6 linked regions of the Homo sapiens genome follow. Changing the gene in region 5 together with the main gene of any one other region gives a genetic interaction. Each region holds a gene or a part of one and is shown on either strand. Other genes may lie near its edges. The genes, in order: RAB1A, SLC30A5, NPRL3, SEC24B, IGF2BP1 and SEC31A.

Region 1 (2,877 bases), on a different chromosome or scaffold from region 5:
TTAAAACCTGTAGTAGCTTTGAACCGTTTGTACTTGAAAATGGGGGTATAAAGGGGTATATATTTTTTCCAGAACCACATTTATTGGCGTATACATAGAAGCAAATCTTAAGGCATGCTGAAATTTGTTGTAAATCCCAATCTTTACTGCCATGGGGAAAAGAACGCTGGAATTTTCCAAACTTAAGTCTGTAAATATGCTCATCTTAAGTTCATGTAATGTTTCCGCTAACTCACCAAGAATAAGCTGACAATTTAAACAACTTTTACTGTGTAAAAATGAAGTGCACGGCATGGCATCACAGTATCTTGACATTTGTTTTGTGTCATTTAGCTACTTTAGAAAATAGTTTCTGAACTCTTTCCCCCTTTATACTGTATTAAGGCAAAAACAAAACTTCTGAAGCATTAAAGATCTTCACCAAAATAACTATTGGTAACTTCAGGAATTTGTCAGTTGCCTTATGTGAGGATGAATAGATCCACCAAGCACGCCTATAATACAAAGTAAACTATGATTTTTATTGTGAAATTTTCATAGATGGAAAATTGAATATTCTGTCCATTTCATTTTACAATTATCTTACCACTTATTTTTGTACCATGTATTTCAATTGCCTGTTTAGTGAAAAATAAAAATTAAAAAAACCTATTCATTTTTGGCTTGTGTTTAGCTTAAATTTTATCATTAAATTAAGGAGCCCACAACAAAATGTGTTGCCAGCAGCCATATCCCAAGCCCCTGCGTGAAGAATGTTTTGGCTGCTATTTCAACCTAAGGAAACAACGTTTGACCTCAGTCACCTTAAAATGCCAGTGTGGGCAGAAGATTTTTTATTCCTCACAATTAAAAACCAAACAAAACCCCCTAGGATCTTGAAGGTCCTATTTCAGAAAATCTTCATATATGCAAAATGTCACCAAAATAAATACATTTGCCTCAATTATCATTACCACCCAGTATTCATGTTTTAATTTTTAGGGATATAATTTCTAAATTTAGAGCAATCAAATTTCCTGCTTCCTATCTTAATGCTTAAACCCTCCTCCAACACCAAGTTAAGCAACTGTGGAGGATAAAATAGTTGAATCTGACTGAAAGCATGGAAGAAAAACATTAGCACACATTAGTCTGATCATTTGCCAATTAGGAAAGGTGCTGCTTTCTACCTCTACCACAGATGCATTTATGAAATGTTGATCAATGAAGCTATTTCAAATGGTTTTAGAGAAGGATCAGAGATAACGGGCTAGATAGCATACATTCTAAACTTGTTTTACATATAGTTTGAGCTCCCTGAACCACTGAAGTTGGTTAAATCCCTACACAGCACAGAAGCCCCTCTAGGTCATGTTATTGGGCATATTATCTAGAAAGCAAATACTGGATGCTGCTCTAAGATAGGTCTAGAATACCTTAGTTTGCATTGTGCACACACAAATGGCTGTGTTGAATATAATGCAAGGCTCTATTTCCCTTTAACCATAAGAATCAAAACAATACTTATCACCATACAGTTTGATATTACTTCCAATAAGTACAATATTTATTAAACATATCTTCAGTTGTTTTGTTACATAGTGTGCAACAAATTACAATATTCTGCAGCCACAAATTATATGCAGAGTATGAAGAAACTATTAATCAGATAGTGTAATCTTTCCATTTATAACTCTACAAGGAAGAACTAGCAAATCAGATCTTACATATAACATCTCACTAAACTTTATGCATGGAAAGTGACAGACACTGCTTGTGCTGTTTGATACAAAATGGCTGAACTTCATCTTCAGAAGACTAAACCTGACATCTAAACATGCCAATATAAACATCAAAACAAAATATATTCTAACCAACCACGGGAAACAGTCTGGTATCAGGAAAGCAACAAGGATTACACACATTATTTTATAAACCAGCACACAAAGGTTTAAAACAGTTCTGAAAATGAAGTTAGCTGTCTTGAGTCAAGGGAATAAAAAAAAAGTCAGTATTGACCATTTACAATCTCTGACCTTTGTGGAGACGGTAAGAATCTGTTGTAGTGCAGCTACATACAGTACAATTCAGGCAATTTTGTTTTTTCACTTGGGTTCAGATTGCAAATTCATTGCTGTGAGAAAAGGATGGAGGCAAATTTTAGCAGCAACCTCCACCTGACTGCTTGACTGGAGTGCTCTGAATTTTAACATTGGACTTCTCAGCACCACCAGCTGTTGCTCCGGGACCCATTCGCTTTTTAATCTCAGCTGCCATCGTCATGAAAGACTGTTCTACATTCGTTGCATTCTTAGCACTGGTTTCCAAAAACGGAATTCCAAGGGAATCAGCAAATTCCTAAGAGAATAATGAGGCACAATTAACACTGAAAAATCTTTTTCACTAATTCTTAGTGCATTTCTACCATCCATAATGGAGCGTGAGGAACTAAGTTCATTGGATCCAAACAGATGCTACACAAATTGTCACTGTCACAGTATTCTAGTGCACATATTTTTAAAAGGCTGTGGCCTTACTGTTACTGCAGAACCCATACATAATTCAACACCTTCAAATTCAGTATGAAAATTAAACTTTAAACATACCTTCGCTGTTGTGTAGTCTACTACTTTCTTTGTGGTCAGATCACATTTGTTCCCTACCAACAATTTGTTGACATTTTCACTGGCATAACGATCTATTTCCTGCAGCCACTGTTTAACATTATTGAAGGACTCCTAAAAAGACATTTGAAAGACTGATAATATAGTTCGATAATATAGTTCTGGAATAAACAGAAACATCGTTCCTGACCTAACAGACAAATAACAAAGAGCTAGTGAGACAACTCTAGCTACAAAATAACCACTGCTAAGGAGTGAAGAGATTTTTTTTTTT
Region 2 (3,278 bases), on a different chromosome or scaffold from region 5:
CAACAGAGTGAGACCCTGTCTCAAAAAAAAAAAAAAAAAAAGAGTTGGAAGATTGATATTTCTGAATAGTAAATGACTACTGAGCCATATAACTTATGAGGTGTACAATTTTGGGTATGAATGACCTCAATTAAAATTACTTTAAAAACAAAAGATTACCTGCTGTACTATTCTTTGTTCTAGCACATCAGATGTCACCTGTATATGAATTGTTCCTGCCACAATACTAGCAGAATGACGCCAAAAATGAGGGTCTCGGTATGATATTAATCCTTCAATTTTCTGTATCTGTCAAATAAAAGAGGTGATATAAATGGTCATACAGGCTACTTTACACAACACAATGGAGATGCTTTCTGACAGAAAGTAAACACACAGATTCCTTGGTCCAGGATCACTATTAAGCTCTTTAAAATACAAAACAAAACAAACAAAAAACCAGCCATAATGAGAAGCCAGAAGCAGGAAGGAATAGGAGATGGGAAAATAGCTTAAAGTAAAGGTGCCTAAAATATTCTGATCTATTTCTGGAGGCTACAGATGTGTGGGGGAAAAAAAATCTCACCTAGGAATGATGCTAGTATGGCAGCTCTGAGTAGGAAGGCAAATGGGTGTTACAGGTATCTTTATTTTGTTCGTTTTTGTTTTTTTTGAGACAGTCTTGCTCTGTCGCAGGCTGGAGTGCAGTGGCACCATCTTGGCTCACTGCAACCTCAGCCTCCCAGGTTCAGGCAATTCTCCTGCCTCAGCCTCCCAAGTAGCTGACTACGGGTGCACGCCACCACGCCTGGCTAAATTTTTTTTTTTTTTTTTTTTTTGTATTTTAGTACAGATGGGGTTTCACCATGTTGCCCAGGCTGGTCTCGAACTCCTGAGTTCAGGCAATCCACCCACCTCAGCCTCCCGAAGTGCTAGGATTATAGGTGTGGACCACCGTGCCCAGCTGTTACAGTTATCTTTATACCTAAAATGGGCTCTTATCAATAGCAGTACCCTTATTTTCCCTGATACAGCACAACTCTGCCTATTCTAATCATGACCTAGACACATTCAATGAACTACAAGTTCTCCTTTACACGGACACATTCATATGCACATTATTTGTTATATAGAGATAACACATTCAAAAGATATCCTCAATGTTCAACAACAGAGGATTGGTTAAATAAATGATTGACTGCCCATACAATGTAATAATGCAGTCATTAACAATGTATTAGAATATTAATCAACATGACATTATTAAGTGGGGAGAAAATTTATAAAACATTACGAAAGTTTTTTGCCATTTTTATTTTCAAAATTTTAATATGGAAACAACTTGTAAAAATGTTTCTTTACATGGCTTTTTGTAGAATGGGAAGGAAACAAAAAGTATTTCTTTCCAGGTGGTAAAATTATGTGATTTTTTTTTTTCTTTTTTGCACTTTTCTATATTTTGAAGTTTTCTGCAATGGATATATATACATATATATATATATTTTGTTGTTGTTGTTGTTGTTGTTTGTTTGTTTGTTTTTTTAAGACAGAGTCTCACTCTGTCGCCCAGGCTGGAGTGCAGTGGTGTGATCTCGGCTCACTGCAACCTCTGCCTCCTGGGTTCAAGCGATTCTTCTGCCTCAGCCTCCCGAATAGCTGGGACTACAGGCACGTGCCACCACACCCAGCTAATTTTTGTATTTTTTGTAGTTTTAGTAGAGATGGGGTTTCACCATATTGACCAGGCTGGTCTCAAACTCCTGACCTTGTGATCCGCCCGCCTCGGCCTCCCAAAGTTCTGGGATTACAGGTGTGAGCCGCCACGCCTGGCCTACAACAGACATATATTATTATTGAAATAAAAAATACTTTAGGCCAGGCGCGGTGGCTCACGCCCATAATCCCTCACTTTGGAAGGCCAAAGCTTGAGCTCAGGATTTCAAGACCAGCCCGGGCAACATTGAGAAACCCCAGCTCTATTTAAAAACAAAACAAACAAACAAAAACTTAAAAAAACCCCATGATGTACTACTATCCAATAACTATGAGGTGAGATAACTTTACTAATTTTATTTATGAAAACAATGGGTTAAGATGATAGAACTTAAATATTCAAGATGCTATCTTTTCATCAGCAGATCCCAATTACTTTAATATGATGTAGTAAACCACGAGGTGAAAGAGAGTCTATTTTATATTTGTTTATTTCTAGGAATTGCTGGTTTATATTCTCATCTTATTTTTCTACATGACTGTTTTTCCTTTGAGACAGTCTTGCTCTGTTGCCCAGGCTGGAGTACAGTGGTGTGATTTTTGGCTCACTGCAACCTCTGCCTCCTGGGTTGAAGTGATTCTCATGCTTCAGCCACTCAGGTAGTTGGGATTACAGGTGTGCGATACTACTACACCCAGCTAATTTTTTTTTTTTTTTTTTTTTTTTTTGAGACGGAGTCTCGCTCTGTGGCCCGGGCTGGAGTGCAGTGGCGTGATCTCGGCTCACTGCAAGCTCCGCCTCCCAGGTTCATGGCTCACTGCAAGCTCCGCCTCCCAGGTTCATGCCATTCTCCTGCCTCAGCCTCCCGAGGAGCTGGGACTACAGGTGCCCACCACGGTGCCTGGCTAATTTTTTGTATTTTTTTTTAGTAGAGACGGGGTTTCACCATGTTAGCCAGGATGGTCTCAATCTCCTGACCTTGTGATCCGCCAGCCTTGGCCTCCCAAAGTGCTGGGATTACAGGCCTGAGCCACCGTGCCAGGCCTAATTTTTTTTTTTGTGTGTGGGGAAGGACAGAGTCTCGCTCTGTTGCCAGTCTCGCTCTGTTGCCATGGCGTGATCTCAGCTCACTGCAACCTCCACCTCCTGGGTTCAAGCGATTCTACTGACTCAGCCTCCTGAGTAGCTTGGATTACAGGTGCCCGCCACCATGCCCGGCTAATTTTTTATATTTTTAGTAGAGATGGGGTTTCATCATGTTAGCCAGGATGGTCTCAATCACCTGACCTCGTGATCTGCCTGCCTCAGCCTCCCAAAGTGCTGGGATTACAGGCGTGAGCCACCGTGCCCGACCCTAATTTTTGTATTTTTAGTAGAGATGGACTTTCACCATGTTGGCCAGGCTGACCTTGAACTCCTGGCCTCAGGTGATCTGCTCACCTCAGCCTCCCAAAGTGCTGGATTACAGGCATGAGCCACCATGCACAGCTAAGATTGTCTTTTTCTTGACTTAAAGAATTATGGACAGTAAACCTTTGCCTGTTTATATGTGCTGCAAATGTTTTTTCCTGGTCTGCCTTTTATG
Region 3 (3,500 bases), on a different chromosome or scaffold from region 5:
CGCCCACATGACTAGCAGCCACAGCTGATCCCATGGCCTGTTGGCCACCCCATCAGCAGCCCCTGCTTCTGATTTCTCCCCGTGCTTTTTTTTTTTTTGGAAACAGAGTCGCCCAGGCTGGAGTACAGTGGCACAATCTCAGCTAACTGCAACCTCTGCCTCCCAGGCTCAATTGATCCTCACACCTCATACCCCCAAGTAGCTGGGACTACAGGTGCACGCCACCACACCCAGCTATTTTTTTTTTTTTTTTTTTTGTATTTTTTGTAGAGACGGGGTTTTGCCATGTTGCTCAGGCTGGTCTCAAAGTCCTGGGCTAGGATGACAGGCATGAGCCACCGTGCCCAGCCTTGCCTGCGCTTTTCCTCCCACACTCCAACCAGATCCGCAGACGAGGCTGAGGGGCCCTCCATCTAATCAGAAAGGGCAGCCCTCTGCATGGACAGGCCCATAAGCATGTGGCTCAGCAAGGACGTGGCATCTTGTACAGAGTGCACAGGCCAACACATGTGCACACACAGGGGCGTAAGGCCACCAGGTTAGGTCTCTGTTCTGCACATGGGAGGGCCCCGCATCCAAGCTTCCTGCCCTTAGTTCCCGTATGTTGTTCATGCACCACTGTGAGACCCCCATGGCCCTGCCCGCTGCTGCCCTGCCCACCCCCTAGCTCTGGTGCCTCAACCTCCAGGACTGCAAGCACCCCAGTCCTTTCTCTCACAGACTCGCCTTACCTCTCTGAGACAGAAGAACAAGTCAGTCCCGTGGCTCACTCACAAAGCCAGCCCTGAACCCAGGTCTGACTCAGATGCCAAAACCTCCAGCCATCCCAGGGACTGGCCCCACCCCATGGTGGGCTGTGCCGCGGCTCTCAGCTGGACACAGCCCCTGTGGATGTACTGTGGCAGGCGGCCTGCCTTTCCTGATGCCCCAGCACCGCCACATGCCACCCATCTGGGCCTCCAGAGCTATACCTGCAGCAAGGCCAGGTCCGCATCTTGGGCTAGCTGCTGCAGGTTCTTCACAGCAGATGTGGTCTTGATCACCCGCACTAGGGCAGGGGAGCAGTCAATAGGAAGCTCACCCAGCAAGGACTTCTCATCACTGAGCAGCAGCAGGGCATGGTAGGGGCTGCAAAACAATCACCTGTCACGGAACACACGAAGTGCAGGAACCCTGCACCGGGTATGCACCAGGTCCTGCACCAGGTATGCACCGGGTATGCACCAGGTCCTGCACCAGGTATGCACCGGGTATGCACCAGGTATGCACCTGGGACTCAAACACACGGAACATACGAAGTGCAGGGAACCCTGCACCAGGTATGCACCAGGTCCTGCACGAGGTCCTGCACCGGGTGTGCATCAGGTATGCACCTGGGACACAAACAGGCAGCTGGAGCCTCCTGGCCCTTAACTGCGGAGAGAAGGGCCAAGAGCGGGATTTGAGAAAAGGGCAGTGGTCTGTTTGGAGGCCTTCACAAAATCTGCCAAGGACTGGCTCATGCCTATAATCCCGGCACTCTGGGAGGCCAAGGCAGGCAGGTCACGTGAGGTCAGGAGTTCGAGGCCAGCCTGGCCAACATGGTGAAACCCCATCTCTACTAAAAATAAAAAAATTATCCGGGTGTGGTTGCACCCACCTGGGGTCCCAGCTACTCGGCAGGCTGAGGCAGGAGAATCACTTGAGCCTGGGAGGCGGAGCTTGCAGTGAGCCGAGATTGCGCCATTGCACTCCAGCCTGGCGACAGAGTGAGACTCTGTCTCAAAAACAACAAAAACAAAACCTGCAAGGATTATGTCACCCTCGGAAAAAAACACGACAAAAGTGGGGAAGGCTCGAAGACTGGACTCTGTATCCCACCTCAGAGACGCCCAGCAAACATCTGTTGATTGAAGACATGAATGAATCTTTCCTAAGGAAATTGTCCCAAATATGGGAAAAGCAAAATCCTCCTCACAGACTAGGGACCAAAGTACATTAAAATATGCTTAGCTAGGATTGAAAGCAAAGAGCACGGACTGGGGAGGGTGGAACTAGGCAGCGCTTTGCTTTCTGTCATTTCCAAATTTTCAGCAATGTGCCCAGATATATTTTTATAATTAAAAAATGTTCAAGGTATTGGGGGACTTGGGAACAGGTGGTGCCAGAAGACTGGGCTCAGTTCTTTCCTTGCAGAAAATCAATTAAATTGCCAGGGCATGGTGGCTAACACCTGTAACCCAGCACTTTGGCAGGCCGAGGCGGGTGGATCACGAGGTCAGGAGTTCAAGACGAGCCTGGCCAACATGGTGAAACCCCATCTCTACTAAAAATACAAAAATTAGCCAGGTGTAGTGGTGTGCACCCATAATCCCAGCTACTCAGGGGGCTGAGGCAGGAGAATCGCTTGAACCCGGGAGACAGAGGCTTCACTGAGTGGAGACTGTGCCACTGCACTTGAGCCCCGAGCAAGACTACATCTCAAAAAAAAAAAAAAAAAAGTCAATTAAATTAAGAAAGTATATTTTGGGAGGCTGAGATGAGCGATGAGTGGATCACCTGAGGTCAGGAGTTCGAGACCAGTCTGGCCAACATGGTGAAACCCTGTCTCTACTAAAAGTACCAAAAAAATTAGCCAGGCATGGCAGTGGGCGCCTGTAATCCCAACTACTCGGGAGCCTGAGGCAGGAGAATCACTTGAACTTGGGAGGTGGACGTAGTGGTGAGCCGGGATCGCACTACTGAAATCCAGCCTGGGCGATAAGATCAAAACTCTGTCTCTCTCTCACACACACACACACCCCCGCAAAAAAAAAAAAAAAAAAGAAAAAGAAAAAAAAAAGAAAAAGAAAATAACTGAGATCCCATGAGTGCTGACTGAAATGCAAAAGACTGGGGTAGGGCAACACCATTAAGATGAAGTCCCTCCAGCCCTCCGGCCTCCCCAAGGACACTCAGCCCCACATCCAGGCTGCCCTGCCCAAGCCTAAGGTGGTGCCAGAAGGGCCCAGGAGAAACCTGGGATTGGTCATTTCTGGACACAACTGGATACAAAATTATGTGTTTTAACTTCTATAAACGGCAGAGCCCCACCTGCAAGCTTCCGCAGTGGGAAGAAGAAAAAGAGAAATTTTGGAACAAAGTAAGTGGTAAAATCTCAGGCAGAAGCTAAAGGGAAGGGCCCTGGCAGGGAGTGAGCACGTGGGGCTGGGCACTTACCGGATGGCTTTCAGGCTCCGTTCGATGGCCTCTGGGGGGATCAGACTGGAGGCCGCATAGTGGATCTTGTGGGGCAGGCAGAAGCTCACCTCCAGCCAGCTGTTGATGTGAAGCCGAACTACGCCCGACGTGCACAGGCTGCAGAGAGTGGGCGCTGTTACCCGTTCACATAAACTTTCTAACCATGCACACAGATCAGAAAACACCCTGCTCAATGGTGCTGATTCCCCTGCTGCTTAGGGGAAACTGCAGGTGGAGACCCGGGCAGGAGAGCATCTCTTAAGATCACATTATGTTTAAGA
Region 4 (3,500 bases), on a different chromosome or scaffold from region 5:
TGGTGGCAATGAATATGGTTTACAAAATTAATTACTGCTACAATCCCAGAAACTTGGGGGGAGAGGAAGGGAGTGAAAAGACACTGCAAACAACTAAAGCAATATATATAGCAATAAAAAATAAAAATTAAACCCAGATATAAGACCCTTGTTTACATATGGAGTGAATACTTTAAGATCTTTTTTTTTTTTTTGCGACGAAGTCTCGCTCTTGTCCCCCAGGCTGGAGTGCAATGGCACAATCTTGGCTCACCACGACCTCCACCTCCCAGGTTCAAGTGATTCTCCTGCCTCAGCCTCCCGAGTAGCTGGGATTACAGGCACCTGCCACCACGCCTGGCTAATTTTTGTATTTTTAGTAGAGACGGGTTTCATCCTGTCGTCCAGGCTGGTCTCAAACTCCTGACCTCAAGTGATCCGCCCGCCTCAGCCTCCCAAAGTGCTTGGATTACAGGCGTAAGCCACCATGCTCGGCCTACTTTAAGATCTTTGAGATATCTATCAATCAGCTTAGAGCCAGGCTCAGTGGCTCACGCCTGTAATCCCAGCACTTTGGGAGGCTAAGGCGGGTGGATCATCTGAGGTCAGCAGTTCAAGACCAGCCTGATCAATATAGTGAAACCCTGTCTCTACTAAAAATACAAAATTAGCCAGGCATGGTGGCGCATGCCTGTAATCCCAGCTACTCGGGAGGCTGAGCAGGAGAATCGCTTGAACCCGGGAGGCGGAGGTTGCAGTGAGCTGAGATTGTGCCATTGTATTCCAGCCTGGTCAACAAGACTGAAACTCAGTCTCAAAAAAAAAAAAAAAAAAAAAAAAAAAAAAAAAAAAAAAAAAAAATCAGCTTAGGAGGAAATTATGTATTCAGACACAGTCACTTTAATACCACAGGGGTATATTCATGAGAGGACCTGATGCTTCCGGTTAGCTATAAATGGAGACTAGAAACCTGAGACACTGATGTGGCTCTGATCAAAAGGAACTTATTTGAGATACACTAGGGAGATTTATATCATTTTAAATGCTGCATGTGCCCTCAAAGTTTAAGGGTTTCCAGTGACTGACCCGATAGTACTGCTGTATGAATGGTATGTTTATTTACATCTTCCATAGTGAGTTCTAGTAATTCCCATTACTATCTCATCTTTCTTGCATTATTAACAATTAAAGTGATAAAACTGTAGTTTCATTCTGGAAAAGGGCATATGGAAGGATTAAAATATACTTTCATTTGAAAATGAACACCATTTGCTTCCTAAAAGTAAAATTAAAAAGCAGCAGCTTATTATTAAATCTGACTGCCCCATCCCCTCACCTCCCAACAAGTTCATTACCAGGCTATTACTTTAGTCAGTCTTCCTACGTTTGAGGACTCAGCTTTGGAAGGAATCCCAAAAGGCAGAGTAAAAGGTAAGAAATATTCAATTAATGCTTGGTATGGAAATACAAATAGTTTTAAAAATCCATATATTGCTCAATGAAAAATGAAGGATAGAAATACAACACCAAGGAAGGAAGCTTAAGAGAAAGATTTCACAGACTTGAAATCAAGTCAAGCTGTATCTTCGAATAAGTGGAGGAAACATGCTAGCAGTTACACCTAGAAAACAAGTAAAAGTGATCATGAAGACTAGGTTTTCTGCCTCTCTATTCCTTTCTTCTCAAACATCAAAGTTTCTAAAAAGAATTTTCTTAGAGTCTGTTAACAGAAAGAGATCTTTAGGCTGGGCATGGTGGCTCATGCCTGTAATCCCAGCACTTTGGGAAGTCTAGATGGGAGGATCACTTGAAGCCAGGAGTTTGAGATCAGTCTCTACAAATTTTTTTTTAAAAGTTAGCTGGGTATGGTGTCACACACCTATAGTCCCAGCTACTCAGGAAGCCATGGTGGGAAGACTGCTTGAGCCCAGGAGTTCAAGGCTGCAGTGAGCTATGATGGCAACACTGTACTCCAGCTTGGGTGACAGAGTGAGATTCTGTCTCTAAAATAAATAAATAAATAAACAAACAGACAAAAAGTTTTAAGAAGAGATCTAGAGTTGGAATTAGCAAAAATAAAATGGACTTCATTTAATACATGTCTAATGAATACCTGTAACTTGCCTATACTGTTCTAGGCTCTTATTATACAACGTGAACAAGAGACAGAAAAAACTGCCACCCTCACAAAGCTTTCACAGAATTGGTAGAAAATGTACCTACTTAACCTTTCTGAATCTTCATTTCATCTGTAAAGGTAGGGATCCAAACTATGTGTTTTTCAAACTGTGCTTAAAAACAACTGAACTTCTACTTCTATTTTAACCGCAACCACTTTGCTTTTTTCTGATTTCTCTATCAGGGATCTATATACAATATCCTTTGGAAAAACAAATCTTAAAAAACGTTTGTGGGCCAGGCACGGTGGCTCACGTCTGTAATCCGAGCACTCTGGGAGGCCGAGGCAGGTGGATCACAAGGTCAGGAGATGGAGACCATCCTGGCCAACATGGTGAAACTCCATCTCTACTAAAAATACAAAAATTACCCAGGAGTGGTGGTGTGCGCCTGTAGGCCCAGCTACTCAGCAGGCTGAGGCAGGAGAATCGCTTGAACCCAGGAGGTGGAGGTTGCAGTGAGCTGAGATCGTGCCACTGCACTCCAGCCTGGGCGACACAGCGAGACTCCGTCTCAAACAAACAAAAAAAGTTTGCCATTTGCTAACCACTTGTAAAAGAAAAAACAGGGCCCAGCCCAGTGGCTCACACCTATAATCGCAAGACTTTGGTAGGTCTAGCCAGGACGATCACTTGAGGCCAGGAGTTAGAGAACAGCCTGGGCAACATGGTGAGACTCAGTCTCTACAAAAATAAAAATAAAAATAATTAGCCAGGAGTGGTAGTGCATGCCTATAGTCCTAGCTACTTGGGAAGCTGAGGCAGGAGGATCACTTGAGCCCAGGAGGTTGAGGCTGCAGTTAGCTATGATGGAGTCACTGACTCCAGCCTGGGTGGCAGAGTGACACCCTGTCTCTAAAACAAACAATAAAAAACAAAAAACTTCTTTCACTCTACTCTCATTCTGCACAGACCACTTCTGTGACCAGATGTGTGAATTTTTGTTTTTATTTTTCCCCAACAGACACCAACTGGGGGTCCTCCAACTCAATTCAATTCTGACACTACCTACCTGAAGTTAGACTCGGATCCCACAGATTAAGGGTTCAGTCCCACAAGATGGCTCCCCACTTCAGATGCCTATCATAAGTATCACAAGTAGCAGGTTGCCATCTGTACTTCTGAGGAACCAGTTACAAACTGGAGTTTCTACTACCCCCTCCTTAGGTTCAATTACTTTGGTAGAAGGGCTTGTGGAAGTCAGGAAAACATTTAAATTTATTGTTTATTATAAAGGATATTACAAAGGATACAGATGAACAGCCAAATGAAAGAGATGTACAGGGCAAAGGATGGGGGCAGGTGCCGCCACCCTCCCAGCATCTCCACATGTTCAGCAACCCA
Region 5 (3,500 bases):
AAGAGGAGGTAATTGTTAATCAGTGGTTCATATATCTGTGACAAAAGAGAAAAGTGGGAAAAAGGAAGCTCCAGCCCATATTTTCTGGCCCACAGGCCCTCCCCATCCTAGGCGGGCTAACCATCTAAGGCAGGTGAAGGGCAAGGCTCAGGTGGGCAGCTTGTCAGCATTCCTTCTGCTTAGCTATCATACTGGAGACCCTGGGTGGAGATTATGAGTTATGAGTAATTGAATAAACACTTCCCAAGGGAAAAAATAGTTCCCAGAGGAATCTAATTCACAAGCTACAAACCAGACCTATGGAATCTGGACGTGGCACTGACCAGCATTTCAAGGCCCTGAATGGCAACTAATCAAGTCACACAGAGGGCAGGCCTGTCTGACTCTCCAGTGGCCCAGAGAGCTGTCCCAGTCCTCTATCCTCACATATGTTAGGTTAAGCTAGTTGATGGTTCATTTTTTGGCTGTCTGATCAGAAGTTCAAGAACCTTAGGATTTAGTGGGGACATAAAAGATGAGAATTTGGCATTAAAGGCCTTCCTTAGAAATGACAGCAGAGTGCAAATAAGATGCCCTCAGACTTCTTTCCTTCCCATCTTCTTCTGTGGACCTTAAAAAGGGAAGACGAAGTCAACAGAAATCCAGTTTGATGTCAATTTGAAAATAGCTCTGCAGCCCTTTATCCTGCATGGAAGGCTTAAAGATGTGATGAGGACTTGACAGCTAACGGGAAACTGACCCAGCCTTTTTCCTACCTCAGGGGAAATACCCAACCTCAATTCCTCCATGTTCAGCTTGGAAAACAATAAAGACCAAAACCTTGAATTGGGCCTCTGGCGGTCCAGTGATGATAACCATACGAACTTTGGAGTCAGGTGTTTCGGGTGGTGCAATCTAAAAAGCAAAAAGCTAGTCAATGAGGGACCCTCTATGGGAAGACCCCCACCATGTCCACTTCATCCAGTTCCCCTTCTACCACCCTTACTCCCAACTACCCATTCTGAAGACTTAGGGGAGGAAGAACAAAGACCCTGAAGCCCACATCATTACGCCTTCACACCAGAATTATTAGGAGGGCAGAGGTGGTCAGTTAGAAGGATTGGCTTCAATGACACTTTCTAAGTAGGGCCTCCTGCCCCCTCCACCTACCAATCTCCCAGAGAGGTTTCAGTGGAGTCTTGCCAACAGGCAAGGACACAAATGAAATGACCAACGGATAGAGGGCAGTGACTGCACCTCCACTGGAGAACAATCAAGGTTTTTGCTCAAAGCTTTTAAGACAACTAAAGCAACCGGATTTAGGTTTGTGAAACTCTAACAGCATCCTTGTTTCACTATGACAGATTCTCCCTTCTCTCTCCCCTGGACCTTGGCCAGGGAAGGTGACAGACAACTAACACTTACTTGGTGTTAGTATGTGAGCGAAGGGCTTTGGCTGCGTAGCCTCATAATATTGTACTGACGAGGAAAGTGAGGCTCAGATCATATAGTGTATTGGGGGAAGGGGTGATGAGATGGATCTTGGATTTGAACCCATCAGTTTGTGTTAGAACCTAAGTTCTCTTTCTATGTTATAACCCTGCCCCTGCCCAGCCTGAAAACCCAGAAGCACTGAAGCCATCCCATGGGGACCAAGCAAGATCAAAAACAAAGAGGACTTCGATTCCATGGGGGAAAGGTCCCTCATATGACACACAGAATTCTCAAATGAGTAGGGGGAATATGGGAGAAAGTGCAGAGTGATAAAAGCAGAGACCCCTCCCTTTCCAGAAACAGGAAGACCCACAGAGCAGATCACCTTGATGGAGGCGCTGGCAAACCGGGAGAGCTGTTTGATGTGCTGCCCCTTCTTGCCGATGATGGCGCCCACTGCCTGGGCGGGGATAAACACCTGCACCATCTCCTGCTCGGGAGCCTGCTGCCAGGATAGGAGGCGTTGTTACCAGGGGGCCCAAGTAGCATGGCCCAGAAACCCTCCACTCCCCTGCCTTGCATCCTCAAGGAGGAAGGAGTACAGGCACCAAACCGCCACCCTGGGCTGCCAAGGGATGCTGTGAGCTCTTTAGCTCTTCCTATGCCCAGTAGGGCTAAAGGGAAGAGGCCAGGAGAGAGTAAGGGAACAGTGCTGTCTATGCCCCGGGAGCATTCTAGGCAGACATTTGGGAGCCTCAGAGCCAGTGGCTAGGAGCACTGGAGAGGAGGGATGCCTCTGAGACCTTCCTTCCCTCTCCCTGCAAACTTGCCAAGCATCCAACTCCCAGAGCATGCTGAGTCCCCCTTAAGGGAGGCCACATATGGGCCCAGGGATCCCGTGTAATAAGATCTTCCACCTACCATAAAGGAGCTATAGGGAGCAGCCCCAGTAACGCTGCTGGGAGGCGGCGGGACTGCGCTGGATGAAGCTGGGAAAAGACCTACAGCAGCCAGGTTCAGGCCAGGGATCAGGTGAGACTGCAGCTGGGGAAGAAAGATGAGGAGGAAGAGTCAGCACACCCTGACAGGGGCTTGTGTGTGACCCCCGCTGTATAAAAGGCGAGTAGCCCCAGAGGCAAGTGGGCCAAAAACATGAATTACATACTTTTCCACAAAAGCCTATTCTGTGCTTTTCATACACTCTCACCTACACACTTCGGGTGTGGAATTTTAAGTGATATGATGTTCTCACTGGACTAACGGCTAGCAATTGCAACCAGAAATGCCAAACAGTTGTACACCCTCAGGAGTCCTTCCTCTCTGGCTGTTCAGACTGCTGGAGACAGACGATAGACCCATGACACTATACTATAACCCCCTATATGAGAAAAAGGCGTGGAGACAGAGCTCCATTGGACTTCTAGGACTCTGATTCTAAACATTTTTGGTCCTGTACCCCAACCCCAAGTCTCCTTTAAAAATCAGATGAGTTGTGTGCAGTGGCTCATGCTTATAATCCTAGTACTTTGGGAGGCCAAGGTAGGAGAATCGCTTGAGCCCAGGAGTTCTAGACCAACCTGGGTGACACAGCAAGACCCTGTTTCCAAAAAATAAAATTTTAAAAAATTAGCTGGGCATGGTGGTGTACACCTGTAGTCTCCTAGGTACTTGGGAGGCTGAAGCAGGAGTATTCCTTGAGCCCAGGGGGTCAAGGCTGCAGTAAGCTATGATTGCGCCATTGTGCTCCAACCTGGGCAACATACCAAGACCCTGTCTCAAAAAAATAAAATAAAAATCAGATGAAAACGATGGACCCCCTCATTTCAATAAAGTGCACACAAACACAAATTGTACACATACTTGGAATCACAGGACTCAAAGCCCAAGATTGGACCCCTACTCTAGGAACCAGGTGAAGAATCCTTGCTAATTAAATACTATTTAAATACTATTTCTGATAGTCGAAGTCCAAAAGCATCAACTAAAGCTCCAAGGCCACACGGCACAGGGCACATGTCCATCACCCTGCACCCCACAAGCTGCTGTTGCTAAGACTCAGGAAAGGATAAGCAGAGGGTACTACCCAG
Region 6 (3,500 bases), on a different chromosome or scaffold from region 5:
CGGGCTTGATGGTGCATGCCTGTAATCTCAGCTACTCGGAAGGCTGGGGCAGGAGAAGTGCTTGAACCCAGGAGGCAGAGGTTGCAGTGAGCCGAGATCACGCCACTGTACTCCAGCCTGGGCGACAAAGCGAGACTCCGTCTCAAGAAAAAAAAAAAAAAAGTTGCTGCAATGTTTTAAAACAGCTAGCAAAGCAAAACCACCAGTATATCATGGAATAAGTTCCTTGATTAACCAATCTCTCTTCATCATTAATAATATCCAACATATTTATTGGGAATTTTATGATTTTCCCTTAGAGGAAAAAAAACAAAACATTCCTTCTAACATGACTGATTAATAAAAAAACAGGATTTGACTTCACAGAAATTTGATTTGTTGTCAACTCTGACAAACAATATAGGAATACCTACAGCAGAAATACAACATGTTCATCACAAGTCAATCACATACTTACTCTGTTACTATGGTCACTGACTTTGATGATTGGCTCATTTTTTCTAAGATCCCATACAGTGGCCCGGCCACTGGGACTGGCTGATGCTAAAATATGCTGAACTTGTCTGTTCCATGCAATGCAGCTGATATCTTCTGGCGGCTACAAGGAAGAAACAGTTAATAAAAACTGCTTGTTTCTCTATTATAATCAAATTTAACTGTAAAATTGGATCCTTCATTTTGAAAAGTGTATTACTTAAAAATCTGATCCATTTATGCCACAAATTTGCTTTATAGTCCTACATCTCTACATTCTCAACACATAAAATTATATGACTTAAAATGCAGGTACATACCACTTCAAGTGTATTATCTTGTTTCATAATATCTCATTCAACAAGAATTTTATTGAATTTCTGCTATAAACCAAGTACTGTTTCTTTACTTTGCAACTGCTGCAAGGTAGATTATGGACCACAAAGTAGATGTTGGTGACTATGACAGAAAACTAGGCAGGGCAAAATTACAGCCTAGACCATTAGCAAAATACCTTTATAAATGGTAGTGCATATGCTGTCATTATGCTACCTCTCAGATTGCCAAAATGTTAGAGCCAGTTACAATGGCTACTCAAGTTGGATAGCCTATACAACATAAAGAAACTCAGGGAAGAACAGGAGAAGACTGTTGTTACCAAACTTAATAGAAATACACAAGCAAAGGGCTTGAGGTATTTATTTTAAACCTTGTCTTCCATGGTCTTGTCTAAGTGTGTTTTAAGAAGGTTGGTTGTTGCCAAAACACAGAGCAACTATCACACAAAGAACAAAAATAATTATACTATATCTAAGACAATTATTAAGGATTTTTGTTCATTTTGTTTACTACTGTATGCCTAGTACAATGACCAGTGTCTACCAGGTGGTAGGTACTAAATAAATATTTACTCTTGATGGACTCACTGATACTTTGAAGAAACATATTTATTAATTACTGAAGAAAAATCAGTAATATCTAAACAATGATTTTAAACATATATGTTTTGTGTGAGAAGCCTTAAAAGTGAAATAAGTAGGTTTAGGAGAACTACTTTTGGCTTTTTTGATTACAATGATCAAAATCAATATAAAAATACCTGTGTTTTGGCTCCTGGTGTCATTGGGGTTGCAAAATTATTTAGATCCCATATGTAGATTTCAGATTCATTAGCACCAGAAGCTACCAGATTAGTCTGCAAGAAGAAACCATAACTAAATAGCACTTATGAATAATTAAGAAAATTCAGAATAACTCAGTTCAGAGCTAGAAAGATATTAGATGTAGCATACACAATTTTTCTATTTAATTTGAAAAGTGAAAAACATATGCATGAATTTCTAAATTATGCATAATTCTTTCAAAATTTAAAGTTTTCTAGAAAAACATAAAATTCTACTTAACAAAGACAAAAGATGTCTACTGAGAACAAATTAATTTTAATGCAAGATATTATTTTAAAAATTATATGGATAAATTCTTTTTTTTTTTTTTTTTTTTGAGATGGAGTTTTGCTCTTGTTGCCCAGGCTGGAGTGCAATGGTGCAATCTCAGCTCACCACAACTTCCGCCTCCCGGGTCCAAGTGATTCTCCTGCCTCAGCCTCCCGAGTAGCTAGGATTACAGGCATGCACCACCACTCCCGGCTAATTCTGTATTTTTAGTAGAGACGGGGTTTCTCCATGTTGGTCAGGCTGGTCTCAAACTCCTGACCTCAGGTGATCCACCTGCCTCGGCCTCCCAAAGTGCTGGGATTACAGGCGTGAGCCACCAAACCTGGCTGGATAAATTCTTAATCAGTCATGCAACCATGTGAGGATTACTGTTTGTATCTTTGCATCTCTGGAAGGAGATTTAATTATAAGATTAAAAAGGTCATCAATTATTGCTTTCAGAAAAAGCTGAATCCTAAAACTGTGGCATCTTTCTCAGGATACCTCAAAGCCAGCTTCCAGAGCTGAATCAATACAGCACTAGTAAAATCTCTTGTCATAACTCTTCACATATTTCTAGTTCATATACACTCAATCTTATTCCAGGTGGCAATATTTCTAGGTTTTCTCTGGTACATACCTTAAGGGTCAAAAAGAACCTGAAATTGTAATATAAAGTACAGGAAGATAATGGGCTTCATATACTGACCTTCATCCACTACTATTTACTCTTACAAATTATTCTCTATCAGTTGGCATATAACTAAAAAAAGGGAGACATTCTATGGTAGTAGCTACCTATAACACAAAATACTTTATTAAAAATCATCAGCTGTTCAATACAATTAACAAAGGAGTTAGCTAAAGAGCAGATACCACAAACTATAGAAACGAAGGCTGGGCACAGTGGCTCATGCCTGTAGTCACAGCACTTTGGGAGGCTGAGGCAGACAGACCACTTGAGCCCAGGAGTTTGGGACCAGCTTGACCAACACGAAAAAACCCTGTCTCTACAAAAATTAGCCAGGTGTTGTGGCTCATGCCTGTAGTCCCAGCTACTCAGGTGGCTGAGACAGAAGACTTGCTTGAGCCCAGGAGGTCAAGACTGCAGTGAGTCATGAGCCACTGCAGTCCAGCCTGGCAGAGGGAGCAAGACGCTGTTTCAAAAAACAAAAAACAACAACAAAAAAGAAATAAACAAGTTGGGTTTCTGTATTGCTATACCCTAAGTATCTATTTATAATATAAGAAAAGGAACTATTTAAAATTTTCTTAATACTCATTTTTGGTTGTTATAATCTAGTATCCTATTAACTCAAGGTCTTTTTTTTTTTTCCAGACAGGGTCTCTATGTGTCACCCAGGTTGCAGTGCAGTGGTGTGATCATAGCTCACTGCAGCGTAGACCTCCCAGGCTAAAGCCATCAACCTACCTCAGCCTCCCGTGTAGCTGAGACTACAGGCGTGTGCCACCATGTTCTGCTAATTGTTTGCATTTTTTGTAATGACAGGGTTTCACCATCCTGTTCAGGCTAAGATCGTTATTAAGCTGTGCATTTATATAATTAACAACCAGAAATGTTTATGAAGGCAA

Evidence for each region.
Region 1: changes in IGF2BP1 (region 5) and RAB1A together harm fitness more than expected from each alone (negative genetic interaction), as found in Homo sapiens cells (one large-scale study listed by BioGRID).
Region 2: changes in IGF2BP1 (region 5) and SLC30A5 together harm fitness less than expected from each alone (positive genetic interaction), as found in Homo sapiens cells (one large-scale study listed by BioGRID).
Region 3: changes in IGF2BP1 (region 5) and NPRL3 together harm fitness more than expected from each alone (negative genetic interaction), as found in Homo sapiens cells (one large-scale study listed by BioGRID).
Region 4: changes in IGF2BP1 (region 5) and SEC24B together harm fitness more than expected from each alone (negative genetic interaction), as found in Homo sapiens cells (one large-scale study listed by BioGRID).
Region 6: changes in IGF2BP1 (region 5) and SEC31A together harm fitness more than expected from each alone (negative genetic interaction), as found in Homo sapiens cells (one large-scale study listed by BioGRID).

Annotation. Positions count from the first base shown.
Region 1 is NC_000002.12:65,086,354-65,089,230, forward strand, and holds the end of RAB1A (ras-related protein Rab-1A), read right to left. Parts: intron 2,718-2,877; coding exon 2,586-2,717; intron 2,338-2,585; coding exon 2,140-2,337; 3' UTR 501-2,139; downstream 1-500. UniProt on the Homo sapiens protein: The small GTPases Rab are key regulators of intracellular membrane trafficking, from the formation of transport vesicles to their fusion with membranes.
Region 2 is NC_000005.10:69,125,014-69,128,291, reverse strand, and holds part of SLC30A5 (proton-coupled zinc antiporter SLC30A5), read right to left. Parts: intron 289-3,278; coding exon 160-288; intron 1-159. UniProt on the Homo sapiens protein: Together with SLC30A6 forms a functional proton-coupled zinc ion antiporter mediating zinc entry into the lumen of organelles along the secretory pathway.
Region 3 is NC_000016.10:97,174-100,673, forward strand, and holds part of NPRL3 (GATOR1 complex protein NPRL3), read right to left. Parts: intron 3,337-3,500; coding exon 3,199-3,336; intron 1,129-3,198; coding exon 972-1,128; intron 1-971. UniProt on the Homo sapiens protein: As a component of the GATOR1 complex functions as an inhibitor of the amino acid-sensing branch of the mTORC1 pathway.
Region 4 is NC_000004.12:109,436,815-109,440,314, reverse strand, and holds part of SEC24B (protein transport protein Sec24B), read right to left. Parts: intron 1-3,500. UniProt on the Homo sapiens protein: Component of the coat protein complex II (COPII) which promotes the formation of transport vesicles from the endoplasmic reticulum (ER).
Region 5 is NC_000017.11:49,042,385-49,045,884, reverse strand, and holds part of IGF2BP1 (insulin-like growth factor 2 mRNA-binding protein 1), read right to left. Parts: intron 2,458-3,500; coding exon 2,335-2,457; intron 1,919-2,334; coding exon 1,799-1,918; intron 895-1,798; coding exon 820-894; intron 1-819. UniProt on the Homo sapiens protein: RNA-binding factor that recruits target transcripts to cytoplasmic protein-RNA complexes (mRNPs). This transcript 'caging' into mRNPs allows mRNA transport and transient storage.
Region 6 is NC_000004.12:82,874,154-82,877,653, forward strand, and holds part of SEC31A (protein transport protein Sec31A), read right to left. Parts: intron 1,670-3,500; coding exon 1,574-1,669; intron 599-1,573; coding exon 458-598; intron 1-457. UniProt on the Homo sapiens protein: Component of the coat protein complex II (COPII) which promotes the formation of transport vesicles from the endoplasmic reticulum (ER).